3 separate regions of the Homo sapiens genome follow, and all the other regions are linked to region 2. Evidence: fine-mapped expression QTL. A gene starts in region 2. Each other region holds a variant in brackets. All regions are shown on one strand. Distances are between the middles of the regions.

Region 1 (10,716 bases), 240 kb before region 2:
TCCCATCTGGGTTTAGAGGGATCACTCTGGTGGTCTGGAGCCACACATGTGGTGGGGACTGCCACGGGGAGAAGCACAGAGGCCACACGGTGTAAGGGTCAGGGAAGTCCTGGCCTGAGAGATGCAATATATGTGGGAGGGGAAGCAGAGAAGGCACCTCGGGGAAAGGGAGGGTTCCTTGTTTCTCTGCATTGTGACAGATGATAACCACAGGCCCGCATGGTGCTGGATACCATAACCCAAAGACAACGTGGTCCGTTCCCATCACAGCAACCACACGGGTGTTGCCTGCAGGAAACCAAGCTGAGCAAAACAGACACTGGCCCCAAGGGGCAGGCCTCCCCCAGGCCAGTTCAGGCCCCAGCTGAAAGATGACGCAGAGACCCACACAGGGTTAACCAGGAGCCACTACAGAGAGTGAGAATCTAGCTGTGACCAAGCCAGTCCTGAGCCCAGTCTGTCCTCCCTTGTTCCCCACTGCCCCCCAACCCCACTGCCACCCAATCCCAAAGCCTCATGACCCCAGCAGGGCCTCTGAGGCCCCATGGAGCAATGGCAAAGACCCTGGCGTCTGGGGGCAGAGAGTCCAGTGTCCATGTCCCAACTGCACATCCCGTGAGGACCTGGCCAGCCTACCTCCCTGTCAATAAGCCCCTTCCAACCCTAGAACCCCCCACACCCAGAACAAGGAGTGGGGCAGGGGCAGCCAGTGGACATGAAAACGAGGGTAAACCCTGGAGGGAGTGGCCGGGGGAGCACATGACGAGGCGGGCCCTGACCAGGAGGCAAGTCATAGCAGAAGGGGGACTGCCAGGCTCTGGGTTGGCCCTGGGTGACCTGAAGGTTTCAGACAATCACAGTCCCTCTTGTGGTCTGGACTTCCTCATGCACAAACTGGGGCAGGGAGTGGAGGGCAGAAGGAACAATTTGGACCAGATGACGCCAAGGTCTTCCAGTTTCTCAGAGTGGTTGACAGCACCGGCCCCTGAATCAAAGGATTGAAACTAGGATCTGCCACTGGTTAACTGTGTGACTTTGAGCCAGTCCTTATTCTGACTGAGCCTCAGTTTCCTCATCTGTAAAATGAGTCAATAATACCTACACCCACAGAGTCATTCTAGAGATGAAGCCACACCAGCCGATGCAGAGTACCCACATGACACTGGCCACACTCTCCAGCATTACACTAAGGGAGCTGCGGGCTGGCAGGGCGATGGCATATCCAGAAAGTGCCAGTGGGCTCCACCAGTCCCACCCTCGTTCGGAGGTGTCCCCTCCCTGCAGGCTGCTCTCCTTCCCATCTCCCATTGGCCCGCAGGGTGGCAGCAGCCGTCTGGGAGGCTGGACTGAGCCGCCACTCTGAGAACGCCTGTCCCTCTCGGGGCTGGCAGGAGGCACCCCATAAATCAATCAGTAAATTCCAAGCAGATGCGCACAGGCTGTTTTGGTTGGAACCCTGGCCCTTTTCTGTGGTTGCAGCGAAACCAGACTCTCAGGTGATTCACAATTTGACGGAGGCCTAGAGCTGGATCCACCAGAGGGTGACGATAATATTTTCTTTCCTGTCTTACCTCGGAGACAGGGTGGGGCTTTTTTTTTCCAGCCCGCTATCCTGGGCCGACAGCATACTCAGGTTTACTCAGTGAATATTTATAAACCTCCAGGCTTGGGAAGCCAGTCTCAAGGACCAGGAGCACTGCTGTGGGCTTCAATGTATGCAAACCCTTCTCCCCCAGGACTATACTCCTCACAGCTGCCCCGAGGTTCTGCTTTGCCACTGAGGAAAGTAGGCAAATGTGGATGTTGTTTAAAAGCTGTGGCTTTGCTGCTAATAGTCCTGGGTTCAAATCCCAAGTCTGATACGTCACTGAGCCTCAGTTTATACTTCCACAGAAACAGGGATACTACACTTAACAAACACGAGCATGGTGAGATTTAAATATATATGAGGTGCTTCCATAGTGCCAAGCACATTTTATTCATTAAGTTGTCACTATTATGATTATTATGATTGCTCAGAGAAGGGACATACTAGCCCTAGGTCACAAAGCAGTCAGAGGAGTGCAGGTGCCCTGTGCAGCAGGATGGGACAACCCAAAGTCAGAGGTGGGGTACCATGCCTGGCATCACTGAGCCAGCTAGCTCCCCAGGCAGCCAGGGTCAGGCAGGGCAAACACTACCTTGCCTTCCGGAGGCTCCACAAAGCCCCTTTGTGAAGAATGCCCAGTAAGAAAGAAAAATACCCAGGGCTGCATCCACAGCAAATTAGTGGTTTGACTCCTTTTGGTTGTAACCAAATGGGAGGAATATAAAAAGGCTGGGAGCCAGGTTTAAAAGCAGGCAAGTGACTCTACACCGTTGTTGGTGAAAATCCTGGCCTGTCCCTCCCTGGGTCTCAGTTTTTCATCTGACAGCTGGGGGCTGGACAGTTGGGATCCTCAGGCCCCCAGCACCCCGCTCTCCTGTGGAGCCTGGATCTCCTGCCTGTAGGGTGGCTGTTTAGAGTCTGACAGCAGCAGCCATCCACTGAGCACCTGCTATGTGCTGGCCCCTCTCTGAGCACTTCACTTGGACTGTCCTCCACTCCTCCCCAGAGCCCTGTGACAAGCGCTGTCACTGTGCCCATCATACAGAAGGGGAAAGTAAGTAACGTGCCCAAAGTCATCAAAGAGGTAAAGCCAGGATTTAAAACCCAGGCAGTAGTCTGGGATACTACATTAAGCCACTCTGCCACTCCCTCCCCTACCCCATGCCCCTTTCATGCATGTGCACACACACACACACGCTCATGCTTGTACTGAGGCAGCTCCCGGAGTCTGGGCTTGGCTGAGATGCACAGCAGGACTGCGAGATTAAGAAGACGTGGGGGAAAGGAAGAGCTGAAGGCACACTCTTAGGCCTCTGGAGGGAACAGAACCGGGGACTTCAAAAGCACAGGGAGACAGGCCCAGCTGATGATGGATGGTTTAAACCTGACCCTGGGGCAGAAATGTAGAAAAGGGCCCATACTATTGCCTGGCAGCAATGAATACCTCCATAGAGAGAGTCCCTGAATATCTTGGGGGACCACGGGGCAGGGTCTGCGGTGTTGACTCTTCTTGGAACCATCAGAGTGCCCAGTCCAGGGTTTGCATACAAAAGGTGCTCATCCTCCAGCTGAGTACCTGGGCTGGACCTTGGGCAAGTCCTTACTCTTTCTGAGGCTGTTTCCTCATCTGTAAAATAGGGATAACAACACCTGCCTCATAGGGTTGTCCTAGAGATTAAATGACAGTGGATGACATTCCCAACAGACAGCAAGCTCCCCTGGGAAGGAACAGCTTTCCTACAGTGACATCCCAGTGCCTGCCGTAGGAGCTCCAGCAGTCTGGGGAGGAGGAAAACAGGTGGGGCCAGAGGAACCTGAGCACTCTGAGAAGAGCCTCAGGTGCAAGTTCTGGCTATATCACTTGCTGACTGTGTGACCTTGAAGAACTCACTTGCCCTCTCTGGCCCTTGGGCTCATCACCTGAAAAATGTGGGTGAAAAACTCTGGCCCGTGGGTGTGGGGTTGTCACACAGAGATTGGGGGCCTAAGGGCACTTTGTGGATGATGGAGCCTTGAATAAACAAGGACAAGTAGGTGAGTGGTACTGACGAGGGCGCACCAAAAAGGGGCCATCTTGGTGGTGGAGGGTGGTTTCTTAACACGCCTTCCTGACACCCGACACCTCTCCTCAAGCTTCTTGGGAAGGAACGGTCCATCTGTCCATCTGTGCTGCAAAAGCAAGGGAGTTCAAGATCACTGGGTGCTCTGTGCTGGGAACCTCCACAGCTTGCACATCATTTAATCTCCAGCCCCAGGTCTCAAGCTGAGGGCTGTCCCATCCCAGGGCCGCTGCTCTGTGCCTCCCATCCTGGGCTGACCCCGAAGCTCTCCCTGACAAGAGTGTCTGCTCCCTGACCCCACTCCACTCCCAGGCACTGCCAAGTGTGGGGCCTGGAGGCTGCTCCTGGGGCCAGCTGGCCAGGCCAGGACACCTCAGTGGTCCAGCAGGCCCAGAGCTTGTGGGGCCAGGCCACACCTACCCTGATGAATCCCAAGGCAACACACTGCCCTGTTTCTGTTCCCCATTACGAGGACTGGTGCCCATCAAATAAATCAGGCTAATGGAGTCTGATGAACAAAGATTCAGATGGTGGGACACTGTAATTATAAACATCAGCAGCTTGGCAATCTGGGATCAGGGGAGCTGTCTTGCTTTGATGGAAGGCGAGCACTGGAGAGATTGTTCTGGACATTACAGGCAGGAGAGGCTGGGTTCCCTGCACCTATTTCACACTACTCTGCAGTGCTGTCAGAGTTTCAGGTTGCCACGCAACGATAAGGCCTTCCACCTCGGGGCCCTGCCACAATACGCTGCTGGAATGGCTCATAGTATCCACACCGCCATGCCAGTCAGTATTCTCAAGACTTTACAGAAGGTTTGTTCTGTTGGTGCTAATGAACGCCTGTCTATCCTGTAACACCCAAGTCAAGTGCTACCTCCTCCAGGAAGCCTTCTGGGTATCTCCTACAGTAAAGCACTTCTTCCTCTGTGCTGTAGGACTTGCCTTCCAGCCTCACATGAGCTAAGCTCTCTCCTTTCTTGTGTCTTTGTGTCTGCCATTCCCTCTGCCTGCAACACCCTTCCCACTGCAGTTTTAACTCCACTCACCCGTCTTGTATCAGATTCAACGTCACCTCCTCCGGGAAGTCTCCCTG[A/T]TCTCCACCAGGCTGCCCGGCCTCCCCAGTTCCCTGCACTGTAACTTAGTTCACATGTCTGTGTCCCACCCTTATCTGGAAGCTCTCTGTCCCCAGTGCCCAGTGCAGGCCTGGCACCAAGTAGGCAATTCAGGAATTGTGAGCTCAAAACAACTCAGGAATTGTGAGCTGAGGAAACGTGTTCTATCGCTGTCAAACCACCACAGGGCTGGGACAGTCTGAGGCCTGCAGACTGTGGTCTGAGTCCTCTGAGTCCCGTCTTCTCGGACTAACAAGACCCAGTTCCTAGTTCCCGAACAAACGAAACCACCAAGGTCTGTTGTGACCCAAAAGTGGAGGGCTTCATATGGAAGGAATCAAGAGGCACAAGGAATCAAGTATCCATTGGAGCAGACACTTTATTATCCAGGCCATAAACCTGATTTACACTTGGGCCGCTTCTCTCCAGCAGCTCTGTAAAGTTTTAACGTTGCCCCAGCAAGCCCTGGGAACAAACCTTCAGAGCAGCAGGAAGAGGCCCATTATGACTTTGGTTGGGGGCAGTAGTGTTCCCAGATGCTCTTGTCCTCCAGGTAACCCTGCGGGTGGAGTCACCTGAACTTGACCTGGAGTGAGCCACGGGCTGAGAGCCTAGAGACCTGGTTCTAGTTCAGACTCCATCATGCACAGACAGTGTGGCCTTCACAAGCTATGTGTCCATCTGGGCCTCAGTCTCCCCACCTGTACAATGACCATGGGGAGGGAGCAAGGAGGCAGACTCAGTGCTAGTAACCAAGGTCACAGCATAACACGGCAACTATAGCTTCAAGCTGTGGCTTACTAGCTATGTGACTTGGGCAAGTTATGGAAGCTCTCTCTGCCTCACTTTCCACACCACGAACATGAGCGAACGGCGGGAGGGTGAGGCCTCCTCCTACCCCAGGGCTACGATGAGCACCAGGGGTTAACTGAGAAGCCTGTGGAGCAGCACCCCCGGGGTCTCCTAGCACTTCAGCCATCGGGGGCTGACAGGAGGAAATGAGGCCCTTCCAAACTGGTTGTCCAAACGTCCCCCAGTAAGCTAGGGGGTACAGAGTGTAATCCCCACACGATAGAAGAGGAAGATGAGGCTCGGAGCCAGGGGCTTACTCTCTCTGTAATCCAGTGAGCTGGGAGCCCAGCCCTGGCCTCCTAATGCCAAGCCTGGAGTTCTTTCCCTGATAAAGAATGTTCCAGGCCAAGTTGTTTTGAAAGGAAGGGGCAAAGTGGGGGAGGGGAGCAAGGCTCCATGTTAGGGTCAACTCTCATATTCTGGAAGAAGTCTCTACAAGACACCATTTAGGGTCAGCTGATTTGCCTCTTTCTCTCTGTCCTACCACCATCCCAATCACCAGCTCCCACTGCAGCTAGGCTGCCGGGTCACCCTCCCTCCACTTGGCTCTGCCCCAGAGAGCCTCTGACGGCCCAGCTAAAACTGTACCCCATCCTGTCCACCTCCAGCCTCTCACTCTGCCATGATAAATCACTATTTATCATACAACCTGACATAATATTGATGAATTTTTCTTCATTAAACAAATATTATTGTTATTCACAAACAAATTCATTAAACCTATTAAATCCTGGCTGTCATAGATGTTTGGGAGAAGACAGTGAACAAAACAGACAAAAATCCCTGCCCTCCTGGAGCTTCCGTACAGAAGAGGAGGTGACTCATAAATAACAAACATGATCAATAGGTCAAACATACGGCCTATTAGAATGGGAAGAGTTCTTCAAAAACAACTGAGTAGAGTAAGGGGATGGGGGTGCTGGGGTAGGGCAGGGTGCTGAAGGTGGGCACCACAGAGTGGTGAAGGGTATGCCCAGCAGAGGGAACAGATGGGACCAGGGCCCGGAGGAGGCAGTGTGCTGGGCTGGAGAGGAGGAAATTAGAAGGAAAGAATTAAACGGTGCATTTGGGGGGCCCCGGGGTCCGGCATCATCCCACAGGCCACAGAGAGGATCCAGAATTGCATCCTGAGTGCCACAGGGGCTCACTCCACAACAGCAAGTATTATTTGCAGAGGAGCGACAGATTCCACTGGTATAAAAGGATCACGCAGGCTGCTGTGCTGAAAGCAGACTGTCTCGCTTATTTGTTGGTTTACGGTTTATCTCCTCCACAAAAATCTAAGGTCCATGAGGGCAGCACTTAATCTGAATTGATCACTATTATCTCTCCTCAGTGCCTAAGAACAGGGCTTGGCATGTGCATAGGAAATGTCTGTGAAATAACTAAACAAACGCACGCCAGCCACACCGGCCTCCTGGCTATTCCGCACTCATGCCAAGCACAGTCTGGCCTCGGGGACTTTGCAATTGATGTGTGCGCTCTGCCTAGAATGCTTCTCCCCCCCAGACATCTGCATGGGTCCTTCCATATTTCGGATCTTGATTCACACATTGCATGAACATTGGGGCCTTTCCTGGTCGTGCTATTCCAAACACGAAATAGCCCTCTCCAACACTTCCTGTCTCCCTTCCCTGCTCATTTGTTTCTGTTTCACTTGTTACCAAATGACACACTGTATATTTCCTGTGTTTCCATCTGTCTCTACCCACTAGAAGACAGGCTTCTGGAAGAAGATGTTGGTCTATTGTAGTCACTGATCAGTCCCCGAAGTCTACAACAGTTGTGACACCCAGCAGGGGCCTAGCAAATGCTTACTGAATGGGGAATGACTCCTCCCGCTTACTCTCTTATCCATACTCAGCAAGCAGGATGGCAGGCCAGGGTGATAGGGGATGGCCGAGGGGATGGCCTGCCCAACAGCAAGACCCCCTATGAACCACAACCCTTGGGGTACAGGCCAACATGGGAAGAAGGGCTATGCCATCTGTGCTAAGTTGTTTCATGGTAAGCCATCTCCTGGTAACCACAAGTAATAAGTGTTTTCATCTCCATTGTACTCAAGAGGAAACACTGGTGCTCAGAGAAGCTAAGTAACTTTCCCAAGTTCATAGAATTTAGGGGGCAGCAGAGCTGGATTTTCAAGAGTCTACCTGACTCCTTGCTTGCAGGAAGTAGAGCTGGGCTTTCGTGGTGTCTACCTCACTCCTTGCAGTTCTTATTCAATCAAAGCCTTATTGACCTGCCATGCCATGCCTGACCCTGCACTAGGTCCTGAGGAATGCAGCAGTGAACAAGGGGGGCAGGGGCCATATTCATTCATATGATGAATATTACAAAGAAGTGAAAATGAATGAACTAGAGACACCTGCAACATCCAGCAACATAATGCTGAATTTAAAAAGCAAATCTCAGTATACCGAATAAAGTTCAAAATCCACTAAAATGGAATATATTGTTTAGGCACACATAGACACGTGATAAAAACTATTTATTTGATTAAAAATTATTTTAAAGCAAGAGAATGACAAACATAAGATTACCTCTAGTGGGTAAGCAGGGATGAAAGAAATAAAATATATAAGAATTGAAAGGAATAAATAAAACTTATTATTCACAAGTGATAATCAGAAATCAAAAAGAATCTAAAAACAAACTAGACCATTAAAAAGTTAATTTGACAAGGTCAGTAGATATAACAGGAACACTCAAAACTCAATTATATACTTATCTACAATAAACAGTAAAGGGAATTTTTTAGATATCATTTATGGTAACATAGAATAACATCAAATACATACGGATAAATCTAACACAAGATATACAAGACCTCAACAAAGAAAATTGCTAGACAGGCTGGACATGGTGGCTCACACCTGTAATTCCAGCGCTTTGGGAGGCTAAGGTGGGTGGATCAGTTGAGGTCAGGAGTTTGAGACCAGCCTGGCCAACATGGTAAAACCCCGTCTTGACTAAAAATACAAAACTTAGCCAGGTGTGGTGGCGCACATCTGTGGTCCCAGCTACTTGGGAGGCTAAGGGAGGAGGACTGTTTGAACCTGGTAGGCAGAGGTTGCAGTGAGTAGAGATCACACCACTGCATTCCAGCCTGGGCAACAGAGCAAGACTCTGTCTCAAAAAAGAAAGAAGAAAGGAAAGAGAGAGAGAGAGAAAGAGAGGGGAAGGAAAGAAGGAAGGAAGGAAGGAGAAGGGAAGGGAAGGAAGGAAAGGAAGGAAGGGAAGGAAGGAAGGAAGGAAAGAAGGAAGGAAAGGGAAGGGAAGGGAAGGAAAGGAAGGAAAGGAAGGAAAGGAAGGAAAGGAAGGAAGGGAGGGATGAAGGAAAAGAAAATTGAGATAAATTAAGGAAGACCTAAATGAATTGAGAGATAAGCCATATTCATGGGTCAGAAGATTCCAAATGTGAATTTAGAAATTCCAAATTTATCTAGAAGCTGGAAGTTGCAAATTTTTCTTCCCAAATTTATCTAGAGATTCAGTGCAATCCAAATCAAAATCCCAGCAGGTTCTTTTTGTCTGTGGAAATTACCAAGCTGGTTCTAAAATTTATATTAAAATTCAAACAGCCAAGAATAGCCAGGGTGATCCTGAAGAATAAGGTAGATATCAAGACTTATTATAAAGCTACAGTAATTAATGTGAAACTGGCACAAAGATAAACAAATAGGCTAATGGAACAGAACAGAGAATCCAGAAATAGAGCCATTTATTTAATTGATTTATGGTAAAGGTGGCCCTTCAGAAAAGTGGGGGAAGGACAACGTGGTCAATAGAAGCTGCTGGCTCAATCGGATTTCTATACAATGTCGGAAAAAAGAAACTTGACACCTTCTGCACACCAAACATAAAAACCAAATCCAGAGAGCCTCCTCGTATTTAGATGGACTATACATCTAAATACTAAATGTAAAACAGCCAAGCTTCAAAAATAAGCTTGTAAAAGAAAATTGTATAGGAGACTATTTTCACAATTTGAGATAAATTCACAAAGATTTCTTAAACAGGACTCAGAAGCACTAACCATAAAAGTAAAGATGAATAAACTAGATTATTTTGAAATGGAGAGTTTCTACTCATCAAAAGACATCATTAAGAGAGAAAAAGGGCAAGCCACATCTAACTAACAAAGGGCTTGGATCTAGAATACATGAAGATCTTCTACACGAAAAAAGGCAAACAACTCAATTAAAAAAAACTTCCCCAGACACAGTGGCACATGCCTGTAATCCCAGCATTTTGGGAGGATGAGGCAGGAGGATCACTTGAGCCCAGGAGTTCAAGACCAATCTGGTCAACATGATGAAACTCCATTGCTACAAAAAAACAAAAAATTAGCCAGGCATGGTGGTATGTGCACCTGTGGTCCCAGCTACTCAAGAGGCTGAGATGGGAGGATCGCTTGAGCCTAGGAGGTGGAGGCTGCAGTGAGCCGTGATTGCGCCACTGCATTCCAGCCTGAGCAACAAAGTGAAACCCTGTCTCAAAAAAAAATAAAAATTAAAAAAAAGACTTGAATAGGCACTTTACAAAAGAGAATATTCAAATGGTCAAAAAATATATGAAATGATGCTCAACATCATTAATCGCCAGAAAAATGTAAATTCAAACCACACTAAGACACCAACACACACCCACCAGAATGGCTAAAATTTAAAAGACAAGCAACATCGTATGTTAGATGGGGAGCAATGGGAACTCTGCTACTCTGCCAGCGGGAGTGCTAAAATGGTGCAGCCACTTTGGAAAGCTGTTTAGCATTATATACTAAAAATGAACATGGTCACATCCTATAGCTCAGCAGTTTAATTCCTACATATATACCCAATAGAAGTACACGTATATGCACATCCTAAGACATGTATACATATATTCATCATAATGTAAATATGGTCAAAAACTGGAAACAACACAAATGCTCGACAGCAGTGGAAAAGATGAGTAAACTGTAATACCATACATCAGTGAAAATGAATAAGCCATAGCTGCACAGCATGAACAGATTTCAGAAACATAATGTTGAGTGAAAAAAATCGGACACGAGAGAGTATGTACTGTAAGATCCCAGCCATATCGAGTTCAAAAA
Region 2 (10,394 bases):
CCACCACCATACTCGGCTAATATTTTGTACTTTTTGTAGAGGTGGAGTTTCACCATGTTGCCCAGGCTGGTCTCGAACTCCTGGGCTCAAGTGATCTGCCCGCCTCAGCCTCCCAAAATGCTGGGATTATATGCGTGAGCCACCACGCCTGGCTCCAAGTGTTATCTTTCCTACATAGCAAGGACAGCATCAATATCTCAGGAGAGAGGCTAAAACAGAGGGCCATGAAGGTTCTTTCCTACTCTAATATTAGAAAATATTGAGCATGGGAGTCCCACATTCCATAAGCTAGGATCTCTGCTCACTACCCCAGTGTTCCCCTCCACAAGTGTACTTACGGAAAGTAATGGTCTGTTTGCCTGTTTCCCCCACCAAGGAAGAGGCCATGTGTCATTTACCTCTGAGCTGTCATTGCCTGACACTGTACCTGGCACACAGTAGACAGTGAATAAGCACATAAACAAGCTTTAAAAATTGTTTAAAAAATATCTCAAAGACAAGTTCAAACCTCAGTTTTGTCAGAGTCATCATTTCCCAGTAACTCATCATCTTCTTCTCTTCCTGAGCCTCTTGGGGATCCTGGCTGATGTTTTGGGGTTTCACCAGGATCCTCAATGTTTACTGTGGTGGCATCTGGGTTTGCTGTCAGAGAAGTGGCTGCATTGCCAAATTCTGAAATCAATTAGAGCACACGGGCCTCAGAAACCTTACCCACACTAGAAATGCTATACTTTGAATTTAAAGACAAGCTGTCACAACCTCAGCTTTGCTATAGACCCTACCTGATACAAAGGGCAAAAGCTTTGAAAAACAAAAAATCTCATCAGGAGATCAATCTGATATAGAAAAATGACTATGAAGACAACAGAATTTGGAGTCAGACCTAGATTTTGGTTCTGGCTCAGCTAGCCACTTACTAAATACACAAGCCTGAGTAAGTAACTAAACCCCTCTAAACCTCAGTGTTTTCATCTGTATCATGGGGAGAATAACATTTATTTTAAATAATTTTGGGAGAACAAGGAATATAATCTAAGTCCTAAACTTTACTTCTTTGATTCAAGTCCAAAAAATTTTAATGAAGGTTATTTTTTCCAGTAAGTCTACATAATCACTACAGAAAATATGGGAACAAAAATGAAAGTGGGATCAGCTGCGCACAGTGACTCACGCCTGTAATCCCAGCACTTTGGGAGGCCAAGGCAGGCGGATCACCTGAGGTCAGGAGTTCGACCAGCCTGGCCAACATGGTGAAATGCTGTCTCTACTAAAAATACAAAAATTAGCCGGGTGTAGTGGCACATGCCTTGTAATCCCAGTTATGCTGGAGGCTGAGACAGGAGAATCACTTGAACCCAGGAGGCAAAGGTTGCAGTGAGCCGAGATCACACCACTGCACTCCAGCCTGTGTGACAGAGTGAGACTATGTCTCAAAAAAAAAGGAAAAAAGAAAGTAGAAATCACAGGATAAAAACCACTCTTAGGCCAGGCATGGTGGCTCATGTCTATAATTCCAGCACTTTGGGAGGCCAAGGCAAGAGGACTGCTCGAGCCTCAGAGGTAGAGGCTGCAGTGAGCCGTGATCATACCACTGTACTCCAGCCTGGGCAAGAGAGTAAGACTTTGTCTCAAAAAAAAAAAAAAAAACCCAAAAAACAAAAAAACACTCTTAGTTCTACCACATAAAGGCAAACACTATTAACATTTTAGTATATTTCCTTTTCTTCACATAGTGAGATTCATGCCACTGATGATCATTCATTTATTCAACAAATATTTACTGCATGCCCACAATGTGCCAAGTACTGATCTAGAACATGATACTATAATTAATTTTGCATCCTGCTTTGTCAAGATTATGTAAAATTGGGGATTATACACAAAAATGATTTTTCATATAACAGTCTCTTAAAATGATCACTTATGTGACTGCATAATATTCCATCAATGAAGGTTTTCTTACAAATACAAAAGGAGTGTCTGTGTAGAAAAAGCTTTTTGGGGGGCAGCCTTAAGATGAACACCTATCAGTGTGATCACTAGGTCAACAGGGTGCAAACCATTTTCAAGGATCCTGAACCATGTTACCAAACTGCTTTCCAAAAGAACCTTACCTACTTGTGTCCACCAGCAGTGATTGAGACTTCCTGTCTCCGAATATCCTAACATACTTTATTTCAGCTGCTCTTGAATAAAATTCAGGGCAGCTCTGAACCTTCGAAGGCCAAAGGAAGAGTGCCAGCAGGGCACCATTATAACACTACAAGCAGGGCACCAGTCCTAGCAGTAGGACAGCTGAGTTCACTCTTATTGCCTCTCAACTATATGAGCAGTTTTATGGAGAACACTAAAGTGACTGAAATTAATCAGGTAGCTAATATGCAACAATTACTGAAGCCTCAATTGGCAATGTTTGGGTAGTTTAAGCAACATGAGGTTCTGGAGTGAGATGGTCCTTTGTTCAAGGTAAGACTCTTAATACTCAGTAGCTCCATGACCTTGAGCAAATTACTCCATGGCTCTGAGTCTCTGTTTCTTCAATTATAAAACATAGATAATACCTACCCCACAAAGAGATTTTGAGGATGATGAAATAATAACTATCATTACAGGTACCTCTTATTGATTGTACAGGGCAATGACATTTAAAAAGATAGTCACAACTTTGCTGGAGGGAATTAGACCAAGGAAGATATACTTAACTCTCACAGTTAAAAAGCAGTAGTTAAAATAACTAGAAAAGTATAACTGAAGCTGGGCGTGGTGGCACACACAAACTGGTGGTCCCAGCTACTTGGGACGCTGAGGCAGGAGAATCGCTTGAACCCAGGAGGCAGAGGTTGCAGTGAGCCGAGATCGCACCACTGCACTCCAGCCTGGCAACAGAGTGAGACTCTGTCTCACAAAAAAAGAAAGAAAAGTAAAGTATAACTGGGCTGGATGCAGTGGCTCACGCCTGTAATCCCAGCACTTTGGGAGGCTGAGGCGAGCAGATCACTTGAGGTCAGGAGTTCGAGACCAGGCTGGCCAACATGGTAAAAACCCATCTCTACTAAAAACATAAAAATTAGCTAGGCATGTTGGTGGACACGTGTAATCCCAGCTACTCAGGAGGGTGAGGCACAAGAATCGCTTGAAATGGGAGGTGAAGGATGCAATGATCTGAGATCATGTCACTGCACTCCAGCCTGGGTGACAGAGCGAGACTCGGTCTCAAAAAAAAAAAAAAAAAAAGAGAGAAAAAGAGTATAATTGGATTGTTTGTAATACAAAGGATAAATGCTTGAAGTGATGGACACCCTGTTTACCCTGATGCAATTACTACACATTACATGCCTGTATCAAAATATATGAGTGTACCCTGTAAGTATATATACCTACTACATACCCATGAAAATTAAAAAATTTTTAAAAAGCAGTAGTTTACCAGGGGGAAGGAATGCCAGAAGGAGGAACAGACAGTACCACTTTAGAAGCACAAAGGTCAAAAAGGCCCCAAGGAGGGCGATAACTCCTCTAGTTATTGGGATCAGGAAAGGTTTCTTGGAGAAGATACCATATGAGAAGGATGGCCAGAGGTGCTGGGGATGGCATCTCATGCAAAGGGAAGGGGATGAGCAAGACCCAGAAGATGGAAAGTGTGCCCGTGATGGAGGGACAGTGACGGCATAGTTTGACTGGAGTGTGGGCTGCGTGTACCCCTAACATGACGACTCTTCACACAGTCTGCTCTGTGCTGGTTATTCTTGTCCATCTCAGCTCCTTGAGCATAAAACTGGTATGTGTCTTATTTCTGCCACCAACATTCTCTGCTTTTACATCCTGGCATATCCTAAGCTAGTTTCAGCCTCTGCTCCTTTCCTGAAACAATGCCTTTCACCTGAAGGCTTCTGACCTCTACTTTTTCATCCAATACTACCGTTCCTCCCCGGAGAAGCCTTTCATGACCCACCCCCCGCCACCCCACCCCCAGCATCCTGTGTGCTTTTCTAAAGACCCAAGTCCTTAACACAGTTGATAAAGCCCTGGGTGATTTGTCACCTGCCTCCTCCTAAGCCTCACCTTGTGTCAGCTTTCCCCACCATCCGTGATCTGGAACACAAGTGTTCTCCCAATCCTTTAGGAAAAAAATTAAACTTCCTCACTCCACAGGGGCTTTTGCGAGGGCCACTGTCTTTAAACTTTCTTGCACTGCACTCCTAGATAGGATGGCTGAGGAGGGTCTCTCTAATGAGGAGAGATTTGAACAGAGCAAAGAAGCAAGCCATAAGGCTATCTGAAGGGAGAATGTCCCACACAGAAAGATGGCACAAACATCCCAAGCTGTGAATGTACTTGGTGCATAGGAAGAACCGTGACAGCCCATGCAGCTTGGGCAGAGACAGAAAGGACGAGAGCAGCAGATGAAATCAGAGGGTTGGAGGCTGCATCATATAGGGGCCTCCTAAGCCACAGTAAGGGCTCTGGCTTTTTCGTTTTTGTGTTTGTTTGTTTATGTTTGAGATGGAGTCTCGCTCTGTCGCCCAGGCTGGAGCACAGTGGTGCGATCTCGGTTCACTGCAACCTCTGGGTTTGAGCAATTCTCCTGCCTCAGCCTCCAGAGTAGCTGGGATTACAGGCGTGCACCACCATGCCCAGCTAATTTTTGTATTTTTAGTGGAGACAGGGTTTCACCATGTTGGCCAGACTGGTCTCGAACTCCTGACCTCAGGTGATCTGCCCTCCTCGGCCTCCCAAAGTGCTGGGATTACAGGTGTGAGCCACTGCGCCCAGCCTGGCTTTTTCTTCTAGTGAGATGGGAGCTACTGGAAGGTTCTGAAAGAATGACATGATCTGCTTGAGTTTTAGAAGGACTACTCTGGCTGCAAAGTACAGACTGTAGAGGGATAAGGGAGGAAGCAGAAAGACCAGAAGGAAGGTAAAGGCTATAATTCAGAAAAAAGGTGACAGTGACCTTGAGCATGGTGAGAGTAGTGGTGGAGGTGGTCAGATGCTAGATGAATTTTGAAGACGAGGTTGACAGTATTTGCAAATTGAGGTGGATTTCTAGTACTTGCAAATGAAATAGATTTATCTTTAAACAGTGTATCTCTTCCTTAGATAACAGAGACAGCATAAGCTGTGATACCAGACTGGATGGGTTCAAATCCTGATTTTATCCCTTACTAACTGCGTGACCATTAGGCAAATTATTTTTCTGTGCCTCAGTCTCCTCATTAATAAAACAGGGGAATAAAGTAACTATTTCATAAAGTTGACATAAGGATTATCTGTACAGGATTTAGAACAGTGCCTGACATATAGTAAATGTTAGGTAAGGTGTTAATAAAACAAGTAAGTGGGCCAGGCCTGGTGGTTCATGCCTGTAATCCCAGCACTTTGGAAGGCCAAGATGGGTGGATCACAAGGTCAGAAGTTCGAGACCAGCCTGGCCAATATGGTGAAGCCCCGTCTCTACTAAAAATACAAAAATTAGTCGGGTGTGGTGACGGGCACCTGTAGTTCCAGCTACTCAGAAGGCTGAGGCAGGAGAATCGTCTGAACCCGGGAGGCAGAGGTTGCAGCAAGCCAAGATCGAGCCAAGGCACTCCAGCCTGGGCAACAGAGTGAGACTCCATCAAAAGAAACAAACAAACAAACAAACAAGTGTTCATCAATCCCTAGCCTAAGTCAGGCTCTGGGTTATGAGTCCTAATATCTCCTTGAACTTTTCCTCCAGCACTTTCATAGTTTGTAGGTATATATTTAAATGATCATTTAATAAATACATGTCCCCCTCACTAGACTGAGAGCTTCACAAGGAAACTATTTTGTTCACTCTTCTATCCCTGATAACTAGAACAATTGCCCGGTTCCTGGTCACAACCAGGAGATATTTACTGATTCAATGAGGGAATGATCTGATCACATTTCATCCTAATGATCTTTTTACATTTTTATCTACTCCACCAGTGGATAAACTTCTTCATCTTTTTGTCTCCAGTATCTTGTACGGTTCTAAGCACAAAGTAAGTGCTCAATAAATGTTTTCTGAACTAAAGCAGGAACTGTGTAAGCATTTTCTGTAATCACTGTACTAAATTTATGATACTCGTTACCAATCTGAAGGGTTATCTGGCAAAAAAAACAAAAACAAAAACAGCTGGTGTGGACAAACAGGAAACACCTGGATGTGGCCAACAGCCACCAAGATGTTTGAAATAATATCCTTCAATGTGTGAGGCAGTATAGGAATGAAAATACTTGCTGTGACTGTAGCAACAGTGATCATAAATATAAAGGTGGGCACCCAACTGGTATACCTTCAAATTGCAAGTCATCTACTGCTGCCATTCGGCCAGTGAGTCTTCTCCCAATTATGAGGAAGAAAATTTGCAGGGTTCTAAAAGAAAAAAATAGGTAAACATAATAGGATGACAGTATAAAGTATCTGCAAACAACTCTTATGTATTAGAAATGGTATCACTTTCCCTTGCCTCCCTTTTCAGTGGGGTTTAATAGGTTTATATAAAGATAACCACTAAGCATCAGGTATTATTAAATATTAAAACTGTAACAAAGAAACTAACCCCGGGGATCCAAAGGTTCCAATTCAACCTTATTTGGTTGTGTATGTACCAGGAATGAATCTCAACTCACTGTGTGAATGTTTAGAGAGCAGGTGCAGCCTAGAGATGTAACGATGAGGAAGGAGAGGCTGAGGTTTGAAAGAGGTGATGGGGACAGTGAAGAACAAAGGCAGTTCAGCCTAGCCAGTGGTTAAAGGCACAGGCTCTGGGGTCAGACAGAGCTGGGTTTGATTCCCGATTCTGCTGCTTCTCTGCTGTATGCGCGCTCCTCGCGGCCTCAGTTTCCTCATCTGTAAAATGGGTGCATAACGATACCTAGTCACACAGTGCGGGGGTCATTAAATGGGAGTGCGTGTAAGGAGCCTAGAGCGGAGTCAGGCAATTAGTAGGCAATGGGGTGTCGGCGACCCTGCAGCCCGGGACACCGCGAAGCAGAGGCAGTGTTTCAGGGAGAGGAGCTGGGCCGCGGCGGCCCGGGCGGGCAGGAGATCCTGAACCCCCTTAGCCTCGTACAGGTCCCGCAAACTCGGCAGCCTCACCTCGCGGGGTTAGGCGTCCCCCGGGTCCCGAGAAGGCTCGGGCCTCAGTTGCTCCGCGCCGGTTTCGGTCCAGCCCAGTTGCCGGAAGCCGGAGATCCGGGGGGCGGAACCTCTCCGCCTCCTCCGGGAAGAGCCCCGCCTCCTTAAAGAGACAGCAGCTCCCAGAGAAACCTGCGTGCTGCGGCGCGCAGAGCCCGCTCCCGCCCGCCCTTCTCCCGAGGCTGAGCCTCGAGTTCTTAAAGAGACAGGCGAGGGCGGAGTGGTGGGGTCGCTGAGTGTGACTACTTGGGCTGGCCTTGCTCCAGGGAACGTAGAAAATTCTCGAGTTTAGGGTTTTCTTACTGTGTGTTTATACCTCTTTTCCTAAGGAAATATAAAATCGGGTGATGAAAGACGATTGTGAAAGAAAAAATTAAGTCACCCGCGTCACCAGTCCCTCAGTTTCTTTTGGCCACAAAAATTTCACTGGTGAGAAAGTACATGATGAGTCAATTACATTCTGAATGAGTGATCGAAAGCGCGATGTCTGTTCGTATGAGCACCCCCAGTAAGTGAGCGCTTGGAAAGACTTTACATCTAATAATAGCCATATATAGTGTATTTTTTTCCCCAAGATGATCATGATCAGGCTTTGTACATGCAGGATCTCTAATTCTCAGAACAATCCTGCTATCTTGGGGTGATTATCCTCATTTTACAAAGAGAAAGCTGAGGCTTAGAGCATGTGCAGGGCACTTTTGGTTGAGTATGTACCAGGAATGAATCTCAGTTCATGAATTCAGCTGTGCTAGTATATCAGCCACCTCTTATGTCCCATTTCAGATCATCTTGGCCTCACCTGCTGCTTATTTCACCGCCACTCATCTTATTCCAGCGTCAGCAGATATAACCTGAGTGAGCTTGCCTCCAGTCTATGCCTCAGGCTTCTCACTTTCTGCTTCGAGGCTTGTTTCTTCATGCGATGGGGCCATGGGACCTTGCTGGAGCCAATCAGCACCCAGACAGGTGCATCCCAGAAGTGTAGGGGTAGAGAGTTGTTAATGTCTCATGAGGCAAATCTCTGACCAATGGGGTCAACACTTGATGAATATATGCTTTTCCTGTTTTTCCCCCTCAGGCGCCCTTTCATATAGCTTTCAAACTACCTAGCAGGATTAAGCAACCAAATGCCTTTGGAAGTGACGCATTTGACAATGCATCTTCGCAATGGGTCTCCTTCCTTCCCTGATATACAAGCCCTGTACTTCACTCCTGGTGCTTGGATTCATACTTGCCAATAAACTACTCATATGAGGAAGCAATATGAAGGCATGTTGGTACCAAAAGTGGCCCCAGAAAATAAAACCTTAGGTTGGCATTTTCTAACTGAACTGCGCACCAGTCACATGGCAACAACAAATATATTGCTGGTGTTAAGGGGAGAGAGAAGGAGGGGGGTGGTGGTGGTGTGATAACACTTAGAATAGAATGGCATCACAATTACTAAGGTGTCTGTCTGCAGTTGATTGGGATAACGTGCAGGTAGAAGATAAGGTGCTGAGTTATCTAGTGGCTGTGGCACAGGAACATTAAGAGGACAATGGTAATTATAAGGACTATGGAATGGACTGGGTGTTCTTAACTCCATTGGAAACCTTGAAAATAAAATGACAGACTTAGAACAGCCAACTGTCAACTTGAGGCACTTTGTGAAAGCTAGAGAGCCTCTATGGCAGCTTTGAAGATTCTTATTCTTCTATAGCCTTGAGAAAGACTGGACTGAAAATCAGGCCCAAGATCTAATTGTAAGGGTGGCAAAGTTTCAACGAAGACTGAATGCACAGCCTCTGTAGGTCTCCTCCATCAAAGCTGGGGCATTGTCAGAAAATGAATGGGAACCTGAGAACTGGGATGAGGATATTTGGGTAGGAAAGCCTGAGACTTGACCATCCCTCGTTTCCAGTTTCCCTTGAATCTTTCAAGGGAAAGGTGGCTGTGGCAGAAGTAGTCCTTTCCCCCTTGTTAAAGGAAAGCAAAGTCCTCTTGCTTACGGATCCTGCAATGATTACCTGCACAACATTGCTTTGGACTAAGGGACCAATTTAATTGTAAAGAACATGCAACAGTGACACATAACCATGGGTCTTACCCACTGGTCTTACCATGTGACTCAGTCATCCAATAGTAGGTGGCCTAATAGGATGGTGGAATGGCTTGTTAAAGGCACAGTTAGGGCTCCAGGTTGGGGAAAATACTCAGGAGACTGGGGCATTGTCCTCCGGCATGTAGTACATGTACTAAACCAATGGTTTATCAATTATTTATAATGGTACTTTGTTCTAAATACCTATAGATTTGCAAACCAAGGGGTAGCACTTCTTACTATCACTTTCAGTGAAACCTACACACATAGAATGTGTGCCTCCTGCGTCACAAGTTTAAGTTCTGCTTGGTTGGAGATCCTGGTCCCAGGGAAGCAGGGAAGGCGGAGAGAGAACACTTCCATTCCAGTTACAGTTCCACTGAATTGGAAGCTGTAACTACCACTTAGGCATTTTTGGCTTCTCATACCACTGCACCAGCAGGTAAAGAAAAGAGTGCCGGCTGGGCGCGGTGTCTCACGCCTGTAATCCCAGCACTTTCGGAGGCCAAGGTGGGCGGATCACCTGAGGTCAGGAATTCGAGACCAACCTGGCCAACATGGCGAAACCCATCTCTACTGAAAACACAAAAATTAGCTGGGCATGGTGGCACACGCCTGTAATCCCAGCTACTTGGGAGGCTGAGGCAGGAGAATTGCTTGAACCTGGGAGGCGGAGGTTGCAGTGAGCCGAGATTGTGCCACTACACTCCAGCCTGGACAACAGAGCGAGGCTCTGTCTCAAAAATAAATAAATAAAGAGTGACACATGGTGGGGAAAATCAGCCCTGATTACTTTAAGAAGTTGGGGGCTGGGCATGGTGGCTCATTCCCATAATCCCAGCATTTTGAGAGATCAAGGAAGGAGGATTGTTTGAGGTCAAGAGTTCAAGACCAGCCTGGGCAACATAAGGAGAAGCTATAACAGTCACAAAATTTGCCGGGTTTGGGTGGCACTCCTGTAGTCCTAACTACTCTGGCTGAGGTGAGAGGATGGCTTGAGCCAGGAGTTTGAGGCTGCAGTGAGCTATGATCACACCACTGCCCTCCAGCCTGGTGACAGAGGAAGGAAACCCCGTCTCAATTATTTAAAAAAAAAAAGGTCTTGGGTGTATTTTAAAACACTTCCCAACTCTGAGCTCTATGATTCTTCTTTCAGTTTCTCCA
Region 3 (8,000 bases), 29 kb before region 2:
TTGGCCTAACAACTTGTTCAAATGAAGCTTTCTCCAAGTGTCTGCTGGGTGCTAGGGAGCTATATTGGTAAATAAAGCTCTGCCCTCAAGGAACTCTCAGTCTATGAAGTTACAGTGAATAAGCAAACTGCCATAATAGAAGAACATACGAGAGCTGTAGAAGAGCACAGAAAAGAAAATAAGTAATACTACCTGGAGAAGTCAAGAAAAACTTCAGCAAGGAGAGGGTATCTCAAGTGAGTCCTGAAAAATAAACAGGAAATTGCCAAGTAGACAAGGCTTGTGAAATGAACACTCTTGACAATGTGAGCGAGTGACAGGATAACTGCATACAAACCCTGTGTATCCAATCAGGAGGATTTAATGACAAAGGACTCTCCAGAAGCCCTCTCTGCATCATTAATTAAAGCCCTGATCACACTGCGATATGATTATCTGCTGATGGCCCTCCTCCGGACAGCCCCACCTGTCACTGCCCCTGGAAAGCTCACCCCAATCTGGATGCGGTCTCAAGCCCTCAAGCCAAAGCAGGGCTTCCCAGGTACAGTTTCCAGGCTCTACCAGGGTCTTGGCTCAGAGAAGACATAGCACTGCCCTCATGTGAAAAGTTAATGAAGAAGGAAGGATGGAAGCCAGATATTCTTTATATTATTTCAATAACTTACATAGGGGTAGCATGCTGATTACAAGTACAGTCCCACACTGCATAATGATGTTTCAGTTGACAACAGACCACGTATACAATGGTGGTCCCATGAGATCACACCATATTTTTACTGTACCTTTTCTATGTTTAGGTACACAAATATTTACGATTGGGTTACATCTGCCTGCTGTATTCAGTATAGCAACATGCCACACAGGTTTGTAGCCTAGGAGCAATAGGCTATCCCACATAAGTGTGTTGTAAGCTATACCATCTAGGTTTGTTTAAGTATATTCTATGATATTGGCACAATGATGAAACTGCCTAATGACGCATGTCTCAGAATGCATCCCATCATTAAGCAATGCATGACTGTAACTGGAAGCTCCCCTATGATCCTGAGGTTCCAGGGAGAGAAGGGGTTCTCCCTGGAATGTGTTCTAAGCTAAGCCTTCCAATGCTCTCCTGGGAATGCGCTCTAGGCTAAGTTTTCCAATACACAGATTTACATGGGGAAGGTAGGTTACTGGTGAGATTAGAAGCCTTTATTTTTCAGTGAAAGCTGGGAGTCCAGAGATGACAGTAGAAGGCACAGCCAGCTCGTAAATCAGCAGCATTCAGGGCTCTGGACAGCCTCTCTATCAGCAAAGCAATTGATGCTTCTGCCAGGGAGGCTGCAAAGAAGCTGTTCATCACTACCTCATTTGGAGACTTGACACCCAAATGGAGGCTCTAACAGCCAAGTTCATAGATCTGAGCAAAGCGCAGAGGCGTCAAATCTGTGTACACCAGTCTGCTAAGTCTTCAAGGGCCCTGAGGGGCAGGCTCTTCTCAGATGCTGCTCTGACTCTCTGAAGGCCTTTACAACCAAAATGAAATGAAATAACTTAAGTCCTAGCTCAGGGGCAGGTTGAGAGAGACCCTCAACATGGCGATGTCAGGTACTTTGGGCCAAAAGAGAGACCCAGGAAACTGTTGCCATTGTGTTCTCTACCTCTGTCCCTCTCCAGCTGGGCTCGAATTGTCTCGTTCTCAGTGATGTGAGTCCACATCGTCTTATCATGGTTCCCCTGTACAGCCTAGGTCTTCATCTTCCCAAAAGCCATGGGAAGCAGACTACTTTTTCCAGAACAGCTAACTGACTGTGCTCAACCTTTATGACCCAGTTCAAACAAGAGCCCCTCTCTGAAGCTTCCCTCCAGGCCAACTCCAACTGAGTCCCTCCCTTCTTGGCCCCATAATGCTAAACTGACAACTTGGCTATGGCATTTAAAGCTTTAATAGTTCCTATATGGATTGACAACAGTATATGCAAATACTTCAAATATATACGTATCACAAGTTTGTGCTTGTGACTGAGAATCTAAAATGGCCTCCAGTGATCCCTGCCTGTCTCCAGGCATTCATGCCCTTGTGTAATTGCCTCCCCTAGAAGGTAGGCAAGACCTGTGACTTGCTTCTAGTCAATAGAAGATGGTAAAGGTGATGACCATCTCTCCTATGTTTACATTATATAGGACAGCAACTTCCATCTCACTATCAGACTCGATTGCCTCTCTCTCCCTTTATGGCTTTGATGAAGTGAGTGATCATACAGAGAGGCCCACGTGGCAAGCAACTGAGGGTGGTCTCCAAATGACCGTCAGCAAGAAGGCCCTCATTCTACGAAGCCACAGGAATTGAATCCTGCCAACAACCTTGTGAGTTGGGAGGCAGATCTTTTCCCAGTCTAGACTTCAGGTGAGACACCAGCCCTGGCCAATGTTTTGACTGCAGCCTTGAGAGAGAATCTGAAGTAGAGGAGCAAGCTAAGCTATCCCCACAGTCCTGCCCCACAGAAACTGTGAGAATGTGTATTGTGGTAATACCACTGGGCAGCAATAGATAATTAATACAGCACGCAAACTCTCAGCTGATAAGACATGCAATCAAAGGAGTGTGGAGACTGCTACTAAACACCTCTAGACCCGCAGAGGAAGGCTCCATCAAACAGCCAAAGGCTAGCAGTGAGAACCTGCACGTTTTAGTGGTAAAAAGAACATTTGTCTAAAAAATGGGAAAGTGAAAAACCTCAAAAATTGGCTTCCCAAGACTTAGATATGAGTCCCAGCTCTGCCTCTAAGAGGTAGGTGATCTTAGTCAGCCCAGATTTACTCAGCCCAGCCTTCTCATCTATACATACAATGTGGTCAAGAGGGCCAGTAAGAGTGGCCAATGAGAGAATAAACTAGGAAATGTTTTGTCAGGCCGGGCGCGATGGCTCACACCTATAATCCCAGCACTGTGGGAGGCCAAGGTGGGTGGCTCACAAGGTCAGGAGTTCGAGACCAGCCTGGCCAACATAGTGAAACCCTATCTCTATTAAAAATACAAAACATTAGCCAGGTGTGGTGACGGGCACCTGTAATCTCAGCTACTTGGGAGGCTGAGGCAGGAGAATCTCTTGAACCCGGGAGGCAGAGGTTGCAGTGGGCCAAGATTGCGCCACTGCACTCCAGCCTGGGCGACAGAGTGAGACTCCACCT[CA/C]AAAAAAAAAAAAAAAAAAAGTGTTTTGTCAAATGGAATGTGATAGACACATGTTAGTTTGCCCCAGAACTCTGGGGTGGCCTTGGGTAAGGCACTGTCCTCTCTCGGTCTCAGCTTCCTTATTGTAAAATGAGGAGGGAAGCCCATGCTATTTAATGTCTCCAAGGGCTCTGATCTTCTTTGATTCTAACATCGCATACCCATGAGAAGAGAGGAAGAGGCGAAAGTGGTAGACTATGACATTTTACAATAGTTCCCAGTCATTCTACTGGCCAGGGTGACTGTCTTACCATTAAGGAACTGGAAAGCATTTGACCAGTCATATCTAGTCAACCTACAGGGCCTACAACCTGGATTCCTCAACTAAGAGGGAAAATCCCCATTTGTTTTACAAAAAGGAAAAAATGATCAAGGTAAAGTCAGTGGGAGCCACCAAACATAAACTACTGACGCACTCTGAGAGTGGCAGTAGCTTTGATTTTATTGCTGAGCACCTTAACTATGTGCCAGGAGCTTTTATAAAAATAATCTCCAACCTTCACTACAATCTTATATAGTTTGTGTCATTCTTATTGTAAAGACAAGTTAGCTGAAGCTCAAAGAGAGTAAGCCCCTTACCCAAGGCACATTGCTAGTACATGGTAGGGCTGGGATTTATCATTATTATTATTAGAGACAGGTTCTCTCTCTATCATCCAGGCTAGAATGCAGTGGCACAATCACAGCTCACTTTAACCTCCATCTCCCAGGCTCAAGTGATCCTCCAACCCCAGCCTCCCAACTAGTTGGGACTACAGGAGCATGCCACCATGCCAAGCTAATTTTTTGTATTGTTTGTAGAAACGGGGTTTTGCCGCATTGCCCAGGTTGGTCTCAAACTCTTGAGCTCAAGTGATCTGCCTGCCTTGGCCTCCCAGAGTGCTGGGATTACAGGTGTGAGCCACCATAGCTGACCTGGGATTTAATTGTAATTTTATTTAATTCTAAGCCCCTGGTTTTTGCACACATCTCATGCCTCTGGGAGAGAGCAGCTTGGACAGAAAGGACAGTCTGTGATTACACAGCAAAGTAAAGGTTCTTGTCCTGCAGCAAGATCATGTGCAGAGTGTGGCTTCATTTATTCATGCCACAAATATTTACTGAGTGCCCTATGTATACTAGGTTATGTGGTAGGCAATGAAGATATAGAGTAACACCATGCCTTGTTCTTGTCGAGCTGAGCCTAACTGGGGAGACATTGTAGTATACAGTGGACAAATGAATGAATAAATAGCCGAACAAATTAATGAATAGGCAGATGGACACATGATTAGTCAGCCATTAGTGTTTCAAGCACCATGAGAGTGATACTTAATACAAAGTGTAATGGGATCACCAGATAAATTATATGACCAGATAAATGGCCGGGCACGGTGGCTCACGCCTGTAATCCCAGCACTTTGGGTGGCCGAGGCAGGTGGATCACCTGAGGTCAGGAGTTCAAGACCAGCCTGGCCAGCATGGTGAAACCCCATCTCTAATAAAAATACAAAAATTAGCCAGGCAGTAGTGGCACCCACCTGTAATCCCAGCTACTCAGGAGGCTGAGGCAGGAGAATCGCTTGAACCCAGGAGATGGAGGCTGCACTGAGCTGAGATCATGCCATTGCACTCCAGCTTGGGCAACAAGAGCGAAACTCTGTCTCAAAAAGAAAAAAAGAAAGTAAGAAAAAGAAAAAAGAAAAAACCACCAGGATTGTTATAAAATGGAACAAACCCATATTGTGTTCTAGGAAAGGGTTCAGGGAGAAGAGAGTCCCCTCTACTGGGACCAAAGGCAGGAGCTCCTCTTACAGAAGAACCTAAGAGCTCATGTTATCCAACTCTATAAAGCCAGTATCATGTGGATTTCAAAACAGAGGACTTCAATAAGAGGAACACAGAAACACAGACATGCACATGCACAAACCCACGCTGAACTGTGCAGAAGGATGAAAGGGTCTGGCCCTCTGTGCTTAAAGCTAACACTAACAGAATTGATACACCTGCCCATGTTTTATGGCACCACACAGCAAAATAAAAATAGAATCTCTTACTTTCCTCATTAGCTGGACTTGGCTGCAGCAACTGTTTGGTTTGGAGTAGCTGTAGTTGTTGGGAGATGGTCCATCTCTGGTGCATCAAAAAAGTATGCCTGTGGGGAAAAAAAGACCCAGGAGGGAGTTAAAAAGACAGTGGTCCGGGTAAGTGTTTTTTTAGACTCCATGCTAACAGTACTTTTGGACTCTCACAGCCCCTAAGTTCTTCCTACCATATTTGCCATCACACTAAACTACAACCATCTCTGTTTACGTTTGTCTCACTAAATTGTGCATACTTTAAAAAATTTAGCTATCATGTACTGAGCACTTACTATATTACATGACTTACTCTTAATAACCCTATGAGGTTGTTAGGATTATCCTCATTAGACAGATAAAGAAACTAAGGCTCAGAGAGACTGTCATTTGATCAGGTGAACATGGCTAATGAGTGGTGAAGCCAGAACTCAAAGCTAGGTCGGTCTGACTCCAAAGCACAAGCTCTTAATCACAACATTATACAGTCTTTCCTCCAGGGCAAAGACTTCTTCATCTTTGTGTCACCAGCACCCCTGCACAGGGCCTGGCACAGTATGTAACCAATCAATACCTAATGAACTGAACTACATTAGCTTGCTGCTAAACTAGTTAGTTGGCTTTCTGCAAATACCTTGAAAAGAGAGTGCTAGGCATGCTTTCCCTAAAAATTCTTCAGCTGGGAAATGAAAGGTTTGCTAAGTGCTTCCACTCACCATCTACAATTTAACGGTCAAAAGTCAGAAGGAGGTAAAGGAGGGAAGACATAAGGTCTAGAGAAGCCTAACTTGAGCGAAGCCAAACTTGAGCCCAGGAAAATACCAATCTCACTACCCTTGAATACTGGTTGTTCAAAGGAAAGGTGAATCTGTTACTACATCAAGGCTCACTGAATGTTCATGATACCCCCTTGGGGTCAGTGCCCTTAGGAAGGTACACTGTTGGAAAGCCAACAACCATTTTTCACCAGCTCTGCTCTCTATCAGCCAGAAGGGGGCACCAACACAACATGTTGGAGCTCTCCCCTACCTGTTGCTATTCCATGTTAACTCTTTTTGAAAAGTTTCCAGATGATGTCTTTCTCTGCAGACTCCCTCTAGTTTGCCCCATTCCCAAAGCAACTCTATTACTTTTAAGAGGCTTCCTCCTTAGGAACCCTTCCAGCAGCTGTTTTCTGGGGCAAGGAAAGAAGAGTCCCTAACTTAAGTGGGGGATGGGGCCACAGTGCTAGTGCTGGGCTCCTCCAGTTCTCCCTCAGGTACACTGTGCCACAAGCCCCCAGGATGCAGGAACAAAGCCTTTCTTCCAGGCTACTGCAGGGTGCCCTTGTAAGACAGAATGAGCAAAGAGGCCCAGCTTCTACACCTGGCTCTGCTATTAGCTCACACTGTGACTTTGGACAAGTCGCTCCACCTGCTTTGGCCTCAACTTTCTGATCTATAAAATTAAAGGATTAGAAAAGATGATCTTGGGGCTGGTGTGGTGACTCAAGAGAGAGAGAGAGATTGGGTGTGGTGGAGAGAGAAGGAAAGAGAGTGAGAAGGAGAGAGAGAAGGCAGGCAGGGAAGGAAGGAAGGAAGGGAGGGGGGAAGGAAGGAAGGAAGGGAGAGAGAGAGGGAGGGAGGGAGGGAGGGAAGAAAAGTAAATAAGATCTCAGCTGGGTGTGGTGGCTCACACCTGTAATCTCAGCACTTTGGGAGGCCAAGGCAGGTGGATCATTTGAGGCCAGGAGTTCAAGACCAGCCCGGCAAACATGGTGAAACCCCACCTCTACTAAAAATACAAAAATTAGCCAGGCGTGGTGGCACATGCCTGTCATCCCAGCTACTCAGGAGGCTGAGGGACAAGAATTGCTTCAGCCCAGGAGGCAGAGGTTGCAGTGAGCCTAGATCACACTGCTGCACTGCAGCCTGGGTGACAGAGGGAAACTGACTCAAAAAGAAAAGATGATCTCTTAGGGCCATTCCTTGAACAATCTTGAATTCTATGATTCATTAATTCCAAAAATGCTTAATAACAATCACAGCCATCATTTGGGGAATGCCTACTGTGCACCAGACATATACTTGATCATTAATCTGCTCAAAAGTGCTGTAACAGGCCATTTTATCCCTTTTAAAGATGAGAAAGCTGAGGCTCAAAGAAATGGAGATTTTCCCAAGGCTAGACAACTATGTGTCTGAGCTAGGATTTCAATCCAGTCGAGTCCATCTCCATAGTCTGTGCTCTTCTAATTCTCCAACACTTCCTGCAATTTGGCACCTAGTCTATGTCCGGTCCGGATCTAGGCACCGTGGAGACCTCAAAGCTGAATCAGCAGGTTCTCTGTGAGTAGGGGTAGGGCACAGCTCCCTGTAAAAGCCAGCAGTAACCACCTCAAACTTAGGCTTGTACATCTCCAAACATACACCAAGGGTGCAGCCTCTAGGTGCTTCCTTAGTCATCCCTGCCAGTGTGTTCTTGTATAACTTAGACATCATTTACATGTGCAATCACCGAGGGGTCCCTGGCAAGTGTGGGGCTGTTATATGCTTCACTGCACTAAGGCAAAAACACCAATCCGTGTTCCCCAGGGGAGAGTGAGGAAGCCAAGCTGTCTGGTTCAGCCGGTGCCCCTCAGCTCAAATAACTCCCCTGCCAGTTCCTCTCTCTGCCCTAATAATAATGTCTTCCATTTACATGACTCGTCATATTTTCCATGCTGCATATATCATTCAATCCTTGCAACGTAA

Which allele goes with the higher level. Positions count from the first base shown, and alleles are read on the strand shown. Sizes are in standard deviations (SD) of each study's normalised expression. Not every link is listed here.
In carriers of allele T in region 1, the expression in lymphoblastoid cells of the gene that starts at base 7,193 in region 2 tends to be lower than with A alone (large effect, 1.2 SD a copy in GTEx).

What was found.
Region 1: its variant is fine-mapped to the expression of YIPF1 in lymphoblastoid cells (GTEx, PIP 0.97).
Region 3: its variant is fine-mapped to the expression of YIPF1 in whole blood (INTERVAL, PIP above 0.99).

The regions. Positions count from the first base shown.
Region 1 is chr1:53,638,059-53,648,774 of GRCh38, forward strand. The region is part of intron 2 of GLIS1 (GLIS family zinc finger 1); the gene reads right to left. Among named protein-coding and RNA genes, the nearest start is that of GLIS1, 96 kb to the right of the region's middle. The variant A/T (reference allele first, on the strand shown) is at 4,745.
Region 2 is chr1:53,882,605-53,892,998 of GRCh38, forward strand. YIPF1 (Yip1 domain family member 1) reads right to left here and starts at 7,193. Exons shown (of 11, transcript NM_018982.5): 1 at 7,109-7,193; 2 at 6,640-6,859; 3 at 6,303-6,382; 4 at 509-672. The coding sequence starts at 6,333. RefSeq lists a silencer at 5,952-6,246 and an enhancer at 7,132-7,426.
Region 3 is chr1:53,854,809-53,862,808 of GRCh38, forward strand. YIPF1 (Yip1 domain family member 1) reads right to left here. Exons shown (of 11, transcript NM_018982.5): 10 at 5,248-5,345. The coding sequence ends at 5,256. Among named protein-coding and RNA genes, the nearest start is that of NDC1, 21 kb to the left of the region's middle. The variant CA/C (reference allele first, on the strand shown) is at 3,172.